Linked DNA regions of Homo sapiens. The protein of the gene in region 1 purifies or fractionates together with the protein of each later gene. This does not show direct contact. Each region holds a gene or a part of one and is shown on either strand. Other genes may lie near its edges.

Evidence for each region. The genes of interacting proteins can lie anywhere in the genome.
Region 2: the proteins of HSD17B1 (region 1) and NOCT purify together in Homo sapiens (affinity purification with mass spectrometry; one large-scale study listed by BioGRID and IntAct). This does not show direct contact.
Region 3: the proteins of HSD17B1 (region 1) and PDLIM5 purify together in Homo sapiens (affinity purification with mass spectrometry; one large-scale study listed by BioGRID and IntAct). This does not show direct contact.
Region 4: the proteins of HSD17B1 (region 1) and AFAP1L1 purify together in Homo sapiens (affinity purification with mass spectrometry; one large-scale study listed by BioGRID and IntAct). This does not show direct contact.

Annotation. Positions count from the first base shown.
Region 1 is NC_000017.11:42,551,443-42,555,714, forward strand, and holds HSD17B1 (17-beta-hydroxysteroid dehydrogenase type 1), read left to right. Parts: upstream 1-1,480; 5' UTR 1,481-1,491; coding exon 1,492-1,588; exon of another isoform or gene 1,589-1,681; coding exon 1,682-1,849; exon of another isoform or gene 1,850-1,996; coding exon 1,997-2,176; exon of another isoform or gene 2,177-2,351; coding exon 2,352-2,445; exon of another isoform or gene 2,446-2,959; coding exon of another isoform or gene 2,960-2,962; coding exon 2,963-3,140; exon of another isoform or gene 3,141-3,226; coding exon 3,227-3,496; 3' UTR 3,497-3,772; downstream 3,773-4,272. UniProt on the Homo sapiens protein: Favors the reduction of estrogens and androgens. Converts estrone (E1) to a more potent estrogen, 17beta-estradiol (E2). Also has 20-alpha-HSD activity. Uses preferentially NADH.
Region 2 is NC_000004.12:139,018,781-139,022,280, reverse strand, and holds part of NOCT (nocturnin), read right to left. Parts: intron 1-3,500. UniProt on the Homo sapiens protein: Phosphatase which catalyzes the conversion of NADP(+) to NAD(+) and of NADPH to NADH. Shows a small preference for NADPH over NADP(+). Represses translation and promotes degradation of target mRNA molecules.
Region 3 is NC_000004.12:94,650,942-94,654,441, reverse strand, and holds part of PDLIM5 (PDZ and LIM domain protein 5), read right to left. Parts: intron 1-3,500. UniProt on the Homo sapiens protein: May play an important role in the heart development by scaffolding PKC to the Z-disk region. May play a role in the regulation of cardiomyocyte expansion. Isoforms lacking the LIM domains may negatively modulate the scaffolding activity of isoform 1.
Region 4 is NC_000005.10:149,309,859-149,313,358, reverse strand, and holds part of AFAP1L1 (actin filament-associated protein 1-like 1), read right to left. Parts: intron 3,404-3,500; coding exon 3,224-3,403; intron 1,248-3,223; coding exon 1,155-1,247; coding exon of another isoform or gene 1,041-1,154; exon of another isoform or gene 984-1,040; intron 1-983. UniProt on the Homo sapiens protein: May be involved in podosome and invadosome formation.

The sequences.
Region 1 (4,272 bases):
GCGAAACTCCGTCTCAAAATAAAATAATCTTCTAAAAATGACAGGGCCAGGTGGGGTGGCACTTTTTTATAATCCGAGCACTTTGGGAGGCTGAGGTGGGCAGATCGCTTGACATCAGGGGTTTGAGACCAGCCTGGCCAACATGGTGAAACTCCGTCTCTACTAAAAATACTAAAAATTAGCTGGGCGTGGTGGCGGGTGCCTGTAATCCCAGCTACTCGGGAGGCTGATGCAGGAGAATCGCCTGAACCAGGCAGATGCAGGATGCAGTGAGCCAAGATTAAGACACTGCACTCCAACCTAAGCAATACTTTGTCTCAAAAATAAAAAAAAGCCTGGGAAACAAAGTGAGACCCCGTCTCTACAAAAAAGTCAAAAAATTAGCTGGGTATGGTGGCAGTGATGGCACACACCTGTAGTCCCGGCTACTTGGGAAGCTTTTTAATATTTTTTGCAGAGACCGGGTCTCACTCTGTTACCTGGCCTGGTCTTGAACTCCTGGGCTCCAACAATCCCCTTTCCTGGGCCTCCCAAAGTGCTGGGATTACAGGCATGAGCCACCGTGCCCAGCCTCAAAGCATATTTTAAAGGATAGAAATAAACAGCCATATGAAGAGATACAGACAGGGCGGTCTGGAAGGGTCCAGAGCAGGAGCTTCTATCTCCATAGAGTTGGGGTTACGTCACCCTCTGGGCACATTCTGTCAGCCTCCACACGTTCAGCCCTCAGAAGCTCCCGAACCCTGTCCTTTGGGCCTTTTATGGAGAACTCCATTGGCTGTCCATGACTGAAGCATGGACAACTGTGATAATGTGATTGGGCAAAAAGGGTCTGATCTAAGCCCAGCAAGGCCAGTCCAGATTCTTTGGGCCTTTGTGCAGCATTCCTTTCTCCAGGGTATGGGGCAAGGACCCACTCTGGAATGAGGATCCTACAACCCACAATCAGATTAGAGTCCTGCCTTGGGCAGCTGAAAAGAGGACAGGAGAAGGTCAGAGAGACGAAAGGCTGTTTTTTGAGGCCTGAGGCACCCCAACATGACAACGTAAGACTGTAACCATGGTCATGTGAGTTATGAGCTAGGAACCCTGGACGAAACCAGCACATATACAATCATCTCCCACCTCCCAACGCCTTTACTTTCACAGCCTCTGCAGCAAACTGCGGTCACTATAATCGCTCCTGTGGCACAGAGGCATACCCAGGGGAATCTGCCCAGGGGGCCACTCTGTGCCCACGTGGGAACCCACACCTGCTTGTAAAGCCTCCCCTCCCTCTGACCAGCAACCAGGACAGTTTGTTGTTCCAAGCAGTGGGCTCATGTCTGTTTTGGCTCAGAACAGGGTGGGGAGAGCGGGCCAGGGACCCGCAGGAAGGCTTATCCTTGAGATTGCGTGGGAGACACAACAAGGGGTGGGGGCCCGCAGGCGGGGCGGGGCGAAGCAGGTGATATCAAGCCCAGAGCCCCAGCCTCTCCCCACAGTCTCACCATGGCCCGCACCGTGGTGCTCATCACCGGCTGTTCCTCGGGCATCGGCCTGCACTTGGCCGTACGTCTGGCTTCAGATCCATCCCAGAGCTTCAAAGGTATAGATAGGCAGGGACAGGGAGGGAGAGAAGGGAGGAGCCCTTGGAGGCCAGAAGGGAAGTCAGATCTTCCTCCTCTCCCAAAACCTCCAGTGTATGCCACGTTGAGGGACCTGAAAACACAGGGCCGGCTGTGGGAGGCGGCCCGGGCCCTGGCATGCCCTCCGGGATCCCTGGAGACGTTGCAGCTGGACGTAAGGGACTCAAAATCCGTGGCCGCTGCCCGGGAACGCGTGACTGAGGGCCGCGTGGACGTGCTGGGTGAGCCTCCTGGAAGCATATGGGCTCCTAGGAGCCTTCTCCGCCCTGCGTTGAAACCAACATGTTCCCAGGCCCAGGGAGCACGAGGGGACAGGCCGTGCTGAGGGTGATGCTGAGGCGGGCTGGTCGGGCCTCTTGTCTCCGCAGTGTGTAACGCAGGCCTGGGCCTGCTGGGGCCGCTGGAGGCGCTGGGGGAGGACGCCGTGGCCTCTGTGCTGGACGTGAATGTAGTAGGGACTGTGCGGATGCTGCAGGCCTTCCTGCCAGACATGAAGAGGCGCGGTTCGGGACGCGTGTTGGTGACCGGGAGCGTGGGAGGATTGATGGGTGAGTGGTAGGGAGTGGCCTCGGCAGCTCCAGATTCTTTGTGTGCGGAGCTGAGCCTTGAAGGCAGGTTCCGCGGGGGGGGTGGAGTGGGGTGCCGTCAGCTTGGAGGGGCACCGTCTGCCCGGGGATGACCCCCTGGCCGCTGCGCCTCAGGAACCTCGTCTCCCCACCTAAGGGCTGCCTTTCAATGACGTTTATTGCGCCAGCAAGTTCGCGCTCGAAGGCTTATGCGAGAGTCTGGCGGTTCTGCTGCTGCCCTTTGGGGTCCAGTGAGTCAACACCCCCGTTCCCCGAACCCTCTTAACTCTGACCTAGAGACGCCGAGCACCCTGTCCTGCGGGAGCCGCTCTGGGGCGATCTCCCTGGCCCTCTCTGCCCGGCTCACATTAGCTGTGTGCCAGGCACTTGGGCTGGGCGCATGGCACGCATTGTGCCACCTGCTGACCTAGCTGCTGAAGTGTTGGTATTGTTATGGGGAAGCTCCAGCCCAGAGAGGTTAGGTGACTGGCCCAAGGTCACACAGCGGCCAGGGACCCCGCTAGATTCGAATCCTGACACCAGGGCTCCCTTGTAGCCTCAGATGGATTTGGGAGGGCTGCTCCGGCAGGAACCCGCGTTTCAAATGTTCTGGTTATCCCCAGCGCCCTTTCCGCCTCACTTCCCAGCGCAGCGGTGCTGCTCGCGGTCGGGGGCCGGGACGTGGTTGGGGCTGGGACTGGGGTTGGGGCTGGGACTGGGGCCTGGCTGGCGTCCGCCCCCTCCCACTCGTTGCTCTCCGGCCAGCAGCTTGAGCCTGATCGAGTGCGGCCCAGTGCACACCGCCTTCATGGAGAAGGTGTTGGGCAGCCCAGAGGAGGTGCTGGACCGCACGGACATCCACACCTTCCACCGCTTCTACCAATACCTCGCCCACAGCAAGCAAGTCTTTCGCGAGGCGGCGCAGAACCCTGAGGAGGTGGCGGAGGTGAGCGCCGGGCTGGACTCCAGGAGTGGGGGCGGTGCGTCCTCCGGCGCGCAGCGGTGGCCACAGCTCTCCTCCCGCCGCCGCAGGTCTTCCTCACCGCTTTGCGCGCCCCGAAGCCGACCCTGCGCTACTTCACCACCGAGCGCTTCCTGCCCCTGCTGCGGATGCGCCTGGACGACCCCAGCGGCTCCAACTACGTCACCGCCATGCACCGGGAAGTGTTCGGCGACGTTCCGGCAAAGGCCGAGGCTGGGGCCGAGGCTGGGGGCGGGGCCGGGCCTGGGGCAGAGGACGAGGCCGGGCGCGGTGCGGTGGGGGACCCTGAGCTCGGCGATCCTCCGGCCGCCCCGCAGTAAAGGCTTCCTCAGCCGCTGTCTCCCGCGCCCTTCTTTGTCCCCTGGGTCTGTGTGGTCCCTGGGGATGGGGCGGCGGTAGCAGCTGTGGGTGGCTAATTAAGATAGATCGCGTTAGCCAGTTTTACCAGCGCAGCTAGGCGCGATGGCTGTCGCCTGTAATGCCAGCGCTTTGGGAGGCGGAGGCAGGAGGATCGCTCAAGCCCCGGAGTTGGAGACCAGCCAGAGCAACACAGTGAGACCCCCATCTCTACAAAAATAAAGAAAATTTAAAAATCAGCACAGTGGCACCATTCCTTGAGCCCAGGAGTTGGAGGGTGCAGTGAGCATGATGGGGCCACTGCACTCCAGCCTGGGTGACAGAGTGAGACCCTGTCAATTAATCAAATGAACCAACCAACCGAAAAACTCAGAAACCAAGGTCCAGAAAGAAGCCAGCCCAGGATCACACCTCAAGTCCATATTAAAGGCCAGACACAGTCTCTGGATAACCAAGGGGCATCTGCAGGAGGAGTTAGGTGGGAATTGGCTTGGGGTAGAGTCAGGTTGTGACTTGGACCCCATTAGCCATGAGACCTCAGGCAAGTTCCTTGCTTTCTCTCAGTCTTTCTTTTCTTTCTTTCTTTCTTTTTTTTTTATTTTCTGAGACAGAGTTTCGCTCTTGTTGCCTAGGCTGGAGTGCAATGGGGCAATCTCGGCTCACCACAATCTCCGCTTCCCAGATTCAAGTGATTCTCCTGCCTCAGCCTCCCAAGTAGCTGGGATACCGGCTAATTTTG
Region 2 (3,500 bases), on another chromosome or scaffold:
AGGTTTTCACTTGAGGTCTCACTCCCTCCGTGGGAAGGCTGATTTTCTCCCATTCTAAGAATAACAATAAATAAAAAGTATCTTAGCTGCTTTCCGTGGAAGTCCAAACAGGTTTACTATGAGGCTAAACGCCCAGGCACACTGTCCTTCAAATTTCTAATTATCTACTGAAGTATAACCACCACTTAAGTGGCTATCAAAGCCCTATAAACTCTAATTAGTGGCCGGGCGTGGTGGCTCACACCTGTAATCCCAGCACTCTGGGAGGCCAAGGCGGGTGTATCACCTGAGGTCAGGAGTTCGAGAGGAGCCTGACCAACATGGTGAAACCCTGTCTCTACTAAATACAAAAAAATTAGCCGGGCATGGTGGCGCATGCCTGTAGTCCCAGCTACTTGGGAGGCTGAGGCAGGAGAATTGCTTGAACCCGGGAGGCACAGGTTGCAGTGAGCCAAGATTGCGCCACTGCACTCCAGCCTGGGCAACAAGAGCAAAACTGTCTAAAAAAAAAAAAAACCAGAAAAACTGTAATTAGTCACCAGTGACTCCTGACAGCAAATACAGACGCTGTATCTCCCTTCCTAACTCCAAGAAGCCAGAACACAATTACCTCACTTTTCTTTTAGTAAACATCATAGAAACCTCATTTTACTCTAAGTTGTGACTTAGAGTGACTACATGGATACACTCCCATTACAACCTCAGTCTCAAGTTTCCTCTCACTGAACTTTCATTAATATGCAAATTTCTTCCCTTTTTTTTTTCTTTGAGAGTAGCTGGGATTACAGGTGCGTGCCACCACGCCCAGCTCATTTTGTATTTTTAGTAGAAATGGGGTTTCTCCATGTTGGTCAGGCTGGTCTCGAACTCCCGACCTCAGGTGATCCGCCTGCCTTGGCCTCCCAAAGTGCTGGGATTACAGGCTTGAGCCACTGTGCCCGGCCCTGGAATTTCTTCCCTTTCTTAAAAGCTGCTTTTGGCGGGGCGTGATGGCTCATGCCTGTAATCTCAGCACTTTTGGATGGCTGAGGCGGGAGGATTGCTTGAGCCCAGGATTTCGAGACCAGCCTGGGCAACACGGCAAAACCCGTCTCGACAAAATATACAATTTTTTAAAGCTGCTTTTTTCGGGGGTCAATGTTCTTTCTCAGGGGTCTCTTGAACTGCCTTAGGCCCCAAGCTCAAAGATCCTTTTTTTTTTTTTTTTTTTGAGACAGAGTATTGCTCCTACTGTCGCCCAGGCTGGAGTGCAATGGCGCAATCTCGGCTCACTGATACCTCCGCCTCCTGGGTTCAAGTGATTCTCCTGCCTCAGTTTCCGAAGCAGCTGGGATGTACAGGTGTGCACCACCACACTTGGCTATTTTTTTTCTAATGTAAGTAGAGACAGGGTTTCACCATGTTGCCCAGGCTGGTCTTGAATGCCTCAGTTCAAGTGATCCGCACCTCGGCCTCCCAAAGTGCTGGGATTACAGGCGTGAACCACTGTGCCCGGCCAGACCAAAGGTCTTAAGGCTCTTCCAGAATCCTCTCCAGAGCTTCTCAAGCTTTCCAGGAATAAGTACCTTTGGGGAAAGGAGGGGCAGAGCTCATAAATACTCCCTAATCTTTTTGGAAGAATCCCCTGAGGCACTTGTTAAATATGCACTCCACCGGGCTTCTCCACAGGAAACTGATCAAGCAGAGGGCTGAAAGGCCAGAAATCTGCATTTTAACAACTGTCCCAAATGATTCTGCCTCTACCCCTTTTCCTAAGATGCTTGCCACAGCTCCTGCATGCGAGCGCCACCTTCTTCCAGGCATTGTGTGTGTGGTCTTCTCTGCCTGCCCCCACCACCCCGCAAACTGTCCCCTTCCAAAACACCCTCCTTTTTCACCTATTAGAAGCAAAGCATTTCTTGACAAATTCAGCCACACTGATTTCTTTCTTCTCAACTCCCACTGCAATTAGTCATGTCACCTTTTACATGTACTATTCAATAAAGCTTGTGGATAAATTGCTATCAATTGATCTTATTCATTTGTTCTAGGTAAAGTCTAGTGTTGAGACAGCAAGCAAGGTTAAATGATTTACAAATGTTAAGTGTGTGGAATGTGAATCTGGAGCCATGGTTATTAACCCCAAAGAACCCCAGTTCACCATGTTTAAACTGTTGCCATTGAATGCTAACAGAAAAATCATACATTAGTTTTCCCACAAGGAAAGCAATTTATTCCATAGCAGCTTGATAATGACAAGCTTTCCCGTTTCTTCTCTCTCATAAGCAGTTTACTCACATAGTTAAAGGACATATTAAATAAAGCTGCCTTCTCAAATGAGCTGGTGGCATTTGCCTATAAATTGTACCATGAAAAAAAGCAAATGTTCTAATGGTAGAGAACAGTAGTTCAGCCAGCTCTTCATTCTCTGAGGAGGAGGGATGTGGAGGATAGCATTTATAAATCCACAGATGACTTCCAACTGCGTTTCATCCAGTACAGTAACTGTGGCAACTGCTACTTCTTAGGGGGGCTGCTATCCTTGAGAAAAGAAAGCCAAACACCGAGATCATCCCTAGGGTCACCTTTTAATTCTAACAACCTGGAATCTGATAACTCCAAAGGGACTGTACTTATCTTCCCAATAACTACCAATTGCCAAGGGGCATAAGTTATGCAGGAACTGATTAGCAAATGTGGACAGCTGTCGGGACTCACTACTCCCCACCACAAGGCTCAGGAGTGGAGAGGAGCTTTTGGCCCCTTCAATGTCTCTCTCACATATGGGTGCCAGATGTCCAAATTTGAGGGCATAGAAGAACAATCTGGAGTTATTCTTTTTGTCATTTCATTTGGTTATGTGGAATCCAGGGCCCATCATGAATGACTCAGACTTAATAGGTCTACAGTAGGATCCAAGAATCTGCATTTTAAAAAAGCACTTCATAGGCTGGGCGCAGTGGCTCACACCTGTAATCCCAGCACTTTGGAAGGCCAAAGCAGGTGGATCACCAGAGCTGGGGAGTTTGAGACGAGCCCGGGCAACACGTTGAAATCCTGTCTCTACTAAATACAAAAATTAGCCCGGCACAGTGGCGTGTGCCTGTAGTCACAGCTGCTCAGGAGGCTGAGACAGGAGAACTGCTTGAGCCTGGGAGGTGGAGGTTGCAGTGAGCAGAGGTGGCGCCACTACACTCCATCCTGGGCAACAGTGCGAGAGAACCTTGTCTCAAAAAAAATAAAAATAAAAATTAAAATTAAAAAGCACTTAGTGCTGGGTCTGAGGCTCTTTGGAAAACAATGTCCATTTTTGCAAAGTGCCTCTTCTCTCACCCTTCCTCATCTGTGTGTGTCTCATGCCTTTCTGCATTTACTCCTGCTTTTTCCAAACAAAACGCTTTATAGTAATCTCTTCCAATCCTAACCATGCTTCAAGAGCCAGCTGAAATGCCACCCATTTCTAGAAGCCCAAAAGGGACTTCCTGCTTTCCTGCACCCTTGTGCCATTTCCAAGTCAAGAG
Region 3 (3,500 bases), on another chromosome or scaffold:
GCCAACTAAGTTTGAGAATAAAATTTCTAGAGTTAGCCTGGATATGGACCTCTTTTATGCAATGTCCAACCAATTAAATACTTGCTCAATTTTCCTTCTTAAGGACTGAACTCATGGGTGTTGGGTGTTGTAAATTCACAGAGGGACTCTGCATTGATGTGAAAAGAAAACGGGAGACGTGCACTTAAGGGATTCCTTCAAGAAAGGGCACTCCCCACCCTTTTTCTGCCTAAGGGAATTTGGTGATGTTTTATTGAGCTGAAATGAGGCAATCTGTCTGCATCATGGGTAGGATTGAGAATGAGGATGTTAACTGTGACTGTGACAGAACATGAGGCAACCAGAAAAAAATATATGGTTTAGGCAGAGATGAGACTTTGACACTTCTACAAAAGAAACAAACAAAAACTTCAATTTGGTAAGTCATAGTGCTAAAAATAGTAATAACTATTACCTGAGACAATTTCTCTTCCCCACAATTTCTCTTCCCCACACATTCTTTCATGTATTTATTTCTCAACTTTACTAAACACATCAAGTCCTCACCCTCCAAAATGACTACAGGAACTGTAAACTAGGTATTATCAATTGTCTGAAACTACTCAGAAAGGTTTCATTTCACTCAAATATGACTGATTTATTTCAAAAATTTAATTTTATTGTGGTAAGAACCCTTAAAATGAGATCCACTCTCTTAACAGATTTTTAAGAGTACAATGTAGTATTGTTAATTATGGGCACAATGTTGTACAGCAGATCTCTAGAACTTATTCATCTTGTATAACTGAAATTTTATACCCACTGTGCACCAACTTCCCTCTCCCCCCTCCCCAACATGACCGATTTTTAACACACATTTGTATCAAGGTAACAAATGTTTGTAAGAGATTTTTTTCCCCATTAAATACTTTATGGTCATGAACTGATAAGATGGGCTTGGTTTGCTTGGCAGGAATCCATTATGAAGCCTTATCTAGTCATGAAGCCTGCAGAGACTAACCATTCTAGCCTCTGCAACATACTTTTCAGTAGCTATATCACACTAATTTATATTCATAGAGCAGCTTTACCTCCAAGGCACTTTTACACTTATCTAATTTGTCCATGCAACATTCCTGTGAGACAGACCAGGACAGTTATTATGAATTCAGTTTAACAGATGGAGAAGCCAAGGTACAGAATGTTCAAAAGATATGACAAATATCATAAAATCACTGACCCAGCCAAGGCCAGAAGTTGAATTTCCTGATTTCTAGTATGCCGCTCTAGTCAACTGATATTCTGCCTTTGACCTCATTAACATCACTTATCATCCCTAAGCGACCACATGGTAATTGTTGGTAAGCATCAGACACCAGACTTCCAGGCAGATTATTAACAGGAGAAGTCATAGCAATGAGTATCGCAAAGTCACAGCATTTTTAAAATTCTGACAATAACATAAACCTTGCTATTCAATAACTATCTCCCACTGTAAATTCTTTGTCACCATATTGATGTTTACTCAGAATCAGCACCTAATTCTGCAAGAGTCACAAAAGGAGAAAGGCTCTTGATGAGTGATTAAAAATTTTTACGTGGGGTGTAAGAGGGTATTTTCTAGCCCTACTTTTTGTTAACTTGTTTCTTATTAATAACATGATGCCATTTTGTATAAGCTAGTACATATCATTCTCTTAAGTTTGAGATAGGCAGTTTATTATTATTATTTTTAAAACTTTAGGGTACCATAATTTTGTTATGACTAATAAGGAATGCCTTTGTTTACTAATTCCTGCCAGAAAAGAAAGGCTACAGATCACCTATTCTGTAATCGAATATATTACTTTTGGTAAGTGGTCCATCATTTTCAACTGACTTATAAAATAACAATCCTATTCAACGAGTTCCTTCATCTAATTTTCTCAGTGTATGTTTGGCAAGTAGTTTATCAGCAAAGATAAACCAGGAATCACACTGCTCAAAGCCAGACAAAGTTTGATGAGTGCCCTGTGTTTTTCCGCCAGGTGGGCAACTGGTTATACACGCATGAAAAATCTTCCAGGCTCAATTTACTGTGACCATAACACAGAGCATGGTAGAGCTTTGGGGTTTCATGCTACTCTCTGGCTGCACATTAAAACAGATTCAAAGCCATTTACTAGGGTGAGTTTTTTACTAGGGCACATCTTTAGCTCATCCATAAGGCTGGAGGACTCTTGAGGCTAGTATTCTTATTTGGCTTCTCAGTTTTCAAAGAAGTCAATCCAACTTCAAACTGCATTCTGTTAAAGCATAAGTGTTGGTATGTACCTGGAACAAAATGAAAAGCTCTGCTCCTGGAACATGTCTATCAATGCTATCAAATATTTGACAAAGTTCATCTGAGAAGAAAAAAAGACATTTAAGAATAACTGACCAAGGAAAATACATTCCATTTGCCAGATTTTCTAAAATATGTATTGAGTTCAAGTCAGATCATCAGAAAACTGGGTTCTGTGAATCACAGCATATTGGGCCTGCTGCACCCCGCAGGATTATTCCTTTTATGAACGGTGCTTGTTGTGATACATGAACCTGTACTGGTAGTTGTTACAGGACACAGCTCTATGAAATTCACCCTTGCTCTTCCTGCAAGTTGTTGCTGGAGTGTTGTTAGATCTCATCCAGCGTCACTTTCACATGGTCTCATTCAGAAAAATTCCTCCCTGATTTCTGCAGCAAGAACTATTATGCTTTTCCTCAGCAGTAGTCTTATTTTTATCTTATTGTAAATTGCAAAACTACCTTTCATTTTTGGTAGACTACTAGAAGGCCTAAAGCCAGATTTACAGTCTAACCAGAGGCAAGTGGGCAGGTCATTATTTTAGTATCGTCCAGTCTCGACGTTAGCTTCATTTTTAACGAGCCTATCGATGAATTTCATTCTTTTTCCCCTTTTGTAATTTATAAGATTATCTTATATTTCACATACCTGTAAAAGTCTTTTTACAAACTTGCTGGAATATAGTTCACTATAAATACATAAATTAAAACTACAGTCCATTAAAAGGATGACTTTAAAATATTTCATTAGTTCCTTTCAAATAGCAAAAGGAATTTTAGACAGTAAAGAAATTCCCACTGCACCTTTAAAAAACAAGCTGAAAATGACCCTTGCTCCTCTCAGATCTCCTTTCTTAAACAAGCATGCTCAGGGCAACTACTGGCCTAACTTGATACTTCTTGGCTGTCCTGAAAGAGCATCTTTCTCCATCAATGCCCTTGAAATTATGCACAGATTAAACAATAAAATTAATCTTTCACATATAGCAAAGTGTTTTCTTCTCTGTGTCAGCAAAGACTAATTTAACAAATTCATTAACACAGGATTAACACTAAAGAAGTTCTTCTTGTTCCAGGTAGGATTGGGTTTCCATTTGTGAACAGGAATGACAGGCCTAGATAACTGCAGAGTGGAATTAAGTATTCAGCTATCTCTTCTAGTATTCGATGTCCTGTGAGCCCTTACTAAGTACATG
Region 4 (3,500 bases), on another chromosome or scaffold:
ATAAATACTAGCCTCGATTACATCGTGCAAGGCCCATGTCTGTGGGTCTTAACCCTTCCCCTTGACTGTAATCTCCTTAAGGGGAGGACTTGGGTCTGAGGCCCTTTGTTACCCACAATACCTGGCAATGTGTAGGTACTGGGACATATTTGCTAACAGCCTGACCAACTGGCTAATGACTGCTTCTCTCATGTTCCAAACAGGCACGCTCCTTCTCTTTTTTTTTTTTTTTTAAATGAAGCTTTGCTCTTTTTGCCCAGGCTGGAGTGCAATGGCACAATCTCGGCTCACCACAACCTCTGCCTCCCGGTTCAAGCAATTCTCCTCCCTCAGCCTCCTGAGTAGCTGGGATTACAGGCATGTGCCACCATGCCTGGCTAATTTTTGTATTTTCAATAGAGATGGGGTTTCTCCATGTTGGTCAGGCTGGTCTCGAACTCCTGAACTCAGGTGATCCACCCGCCTCGGCCTCCCAAAGTGCTGGGATTACAGGCGTGAGCCACTGCGCCCGGCCTACTCCTTCTCTTTCTCTTTCTTTCTTTCTCTCTCTCTCTTTTCTTTCTTTTTTCTGAGACAGGGTCTCACTCTGTTGCCCAGGCTGGAGTGCAGTGACGCAATCGTGGCTCACTGCAGCCTCCACCTGCCAGGCTCAAGTAAGTCTCCTACCTTAGCCTCCTGAGTAGTGAGGACTACAGGCATGTGCCACCACACCTGGATAATTGTTTTGTAACTTTTTTGTTTTAGAGATGAGGTCTCACTATGTTGTCCAGGCTGGTCTTGAACTCCGGGGCTCAAGTGATGTGCCCACCTTGGCCTCCCAAAGTGCTGGGATTATACACCCTCTTTTTCTAATTGACAAATTTCAACTTATTTTTCATGGCACAATTGCAATGTGACCTCCTCCTGTCCTGGCAGGGTGCATCACTCCCTCCTCTGGCTTGTACTGCACTTTGGGCATAAGCACTCGTTTGTTCATGCATTCATGAATTCAGGAGACATTTATTAAGCACCTACTGTTGTGCCAGCTCTGTGCTGGGCACCTACAGTTTGGCAGTTGCCTGACTTTCCCCCCAGCCAGTTAGTTCCCCTGGGGTTGAGCCCGTGTTGAGTGGCCACTGCCTGGCCTGGGGAAGACTTAGTGGAGACAGATATACCTTGTCCAGGTCCAACTTGCACAGGAGGACTGGGGATCTGGGGACCTCCACTCCCTCAGCTCCCCCAACTGGCTTGCTCACTTCTCGGATGACCTGTGAAGAGGACACACAGCTGTGAACGGGTGGGCAGGGAAGCTGTTGATGCAAAGGAAGAATGGGGACTGTGTGGTGAATGCTGTAGAACAGAGGGTCAGGGCCACTGTGGGGAACAGATGGACTGACACAGCTACCTGCATATGTGTGGGGCACATGGGTTTGTAAAGGCTTTCTCCCATATCTGTCCCCTGGGCTGAAAAGATACAAGGATGGGGACCAAGAGGCTTATTGCTAATTAGTTGTGTGGTCTTGGAAGAGCCACTTCCCTGCTCTGGGCCTCAGTGTCCACATCTGCAACATGGGAATATACTAGTCCTCTGCTTCCCTCCTTGGGTTGCCTGAGGACAGTGTGACCATGGATGCGAAGAGTGATGGGAACCATAAAGCCTCACAAGCATGAGGGACCTGCTTCTGTGACCATGTGCACCTTTACAGCAACCTGTAGGGTAGCTGGAGTTATCACCTCCATCTCCTAAAGGCATCCGCTCACTTGCCAAGGCCACACAGCAATAAGCATGAGATCAGGGAATAATCACAGCTACCATTTGTTGCTCACCTAATTGGTGGCTTTCTGTGGATTATCCCATTTTATCCCCCACCAGCCTTGTAAGCCCTGAGTTACAGCTTAAGATGATGAGCCTCGCAGAGGGGAAGCCACCTGTTAGGTGGCAGCAGAGCCAGAAACTAAATGCAGGCAGTTCAGCTGCCCACTGTTAACCTCTGGGCTAACGGCCGCCCAGGATCAATGTCAAGGCAAGTCTCTTTTAACTCCAGTCTAGGGATTCGTCTGCCGACCCAACCAGCTCGTGGAGGGTACAGGCTCCCCCAACAGGCAGGTTCTCTCCCTTCTTTCCCTCCTGAGACAAAGGGGTAATGAGAAACACCAAATGTTCCATCATGGGGGCTGGTTATCACAGGAAGGAAGGGGCTGGGTAGAGAGGGAGGTGTTTGGTTTCATTGTTCCAGCAGGAAGATCAGAGGAGGAAAGGATGGTGTCAGAGTGAAGTAGAGGCGGTGCAAGGATGAGGTCTGCTGTAAAGGAATGGGGGGTGGGGCATCGCAGTCATCACAACAGTAGTTACTGACAGTTACCACACACTCACTGCCTGGCAGGCGCTGTGCCAAGTGCTCTCCAGAATCCTTCCAAGGACCATTTCACAGATGAAAAAAACAGGCACAGAGGGTCAAAGTCATTTGCAGAAGGTCACACAGCCAGTAAGTGCCCTTTAGGCCTGGGGCTTGCACTCCAGTATGGGTGCCACAAAGTCCCCTCTCCCATGTCATCACTATGTCATCCTGCCTATGGCCTTTGGAGTAGATTTACTACTTAGCTTCAAATTCTGGCTCCCACCACTTTGGTTGTGTGACGTTTGGCAAGTCACATAAGTTCTCAAAGCTGTGTCTTAGTTTCCTCATCTGCGAAATGGGAACAATAATATTTTGTCCCATTTTCAAGCAGAAATGAGGTCACGTATGTAAAGCTCTTGGCACAATGCATGGTACAAAGTAAGTGCTCATTTTGTGGTGACTCTCATTGTTCTGTGTAGCTGCAGAGGCAGAAACTGGCCCATGGGTGGTCATTATAAGGATGTACGTTTCAAGGCAAGGAAGGATTTTTCCTTTGTTGTTGTTGTTTTAAGAATTCACTGGTCTAATGATGAAATCAGCTTCCTTTGTACATACTAAGCCTCCAGTTCCAGGAGGTATACAAGTGCAGGCTGAATAAGCCCACAGTAAGGATTTGGAAAGGGAATTCAAATAACCAGAAGGGACACAGGTCTCCAGCATGAAGTCTGCCTCTTGGAGATATCCGAGGCCCATTTCCATACATAAGCCCTAGCCACGCAGAGGGCACTTGGGCTCAGGCACTGAGCAAGAGGCTCTTCCAGGGACAGGAGCCAGCTCTACTGAGGGCTGGCTTGGGGAAGAGAGAAAGGGTGAGAAGGCGGGAAGGTCAGGTGCAGGCCACGCACCTTCAGCCACTCCTCGGCCTGCTCTCGGCTCTGCAGTGCCAGCACCAAGACCTCGGTAGCCCCCTGGGTGAAACGCAGCTCGTGCCTCTTGTGCCGGCTGTCCTTGGGCACGTAGATGATGCTGCAGGTATCCAGTGCCAACCTCAGATGTGGCTGCCGATCCTTGGAGCTTTTGTAACACTGGACAGGGAGAGAAACACATCAGGATCTTCTGAAGTAGAGGGTAGAGGAGGGAGACATCCTCACACAAAGGCTCGGGGGAAGCCCGACCTCCCTT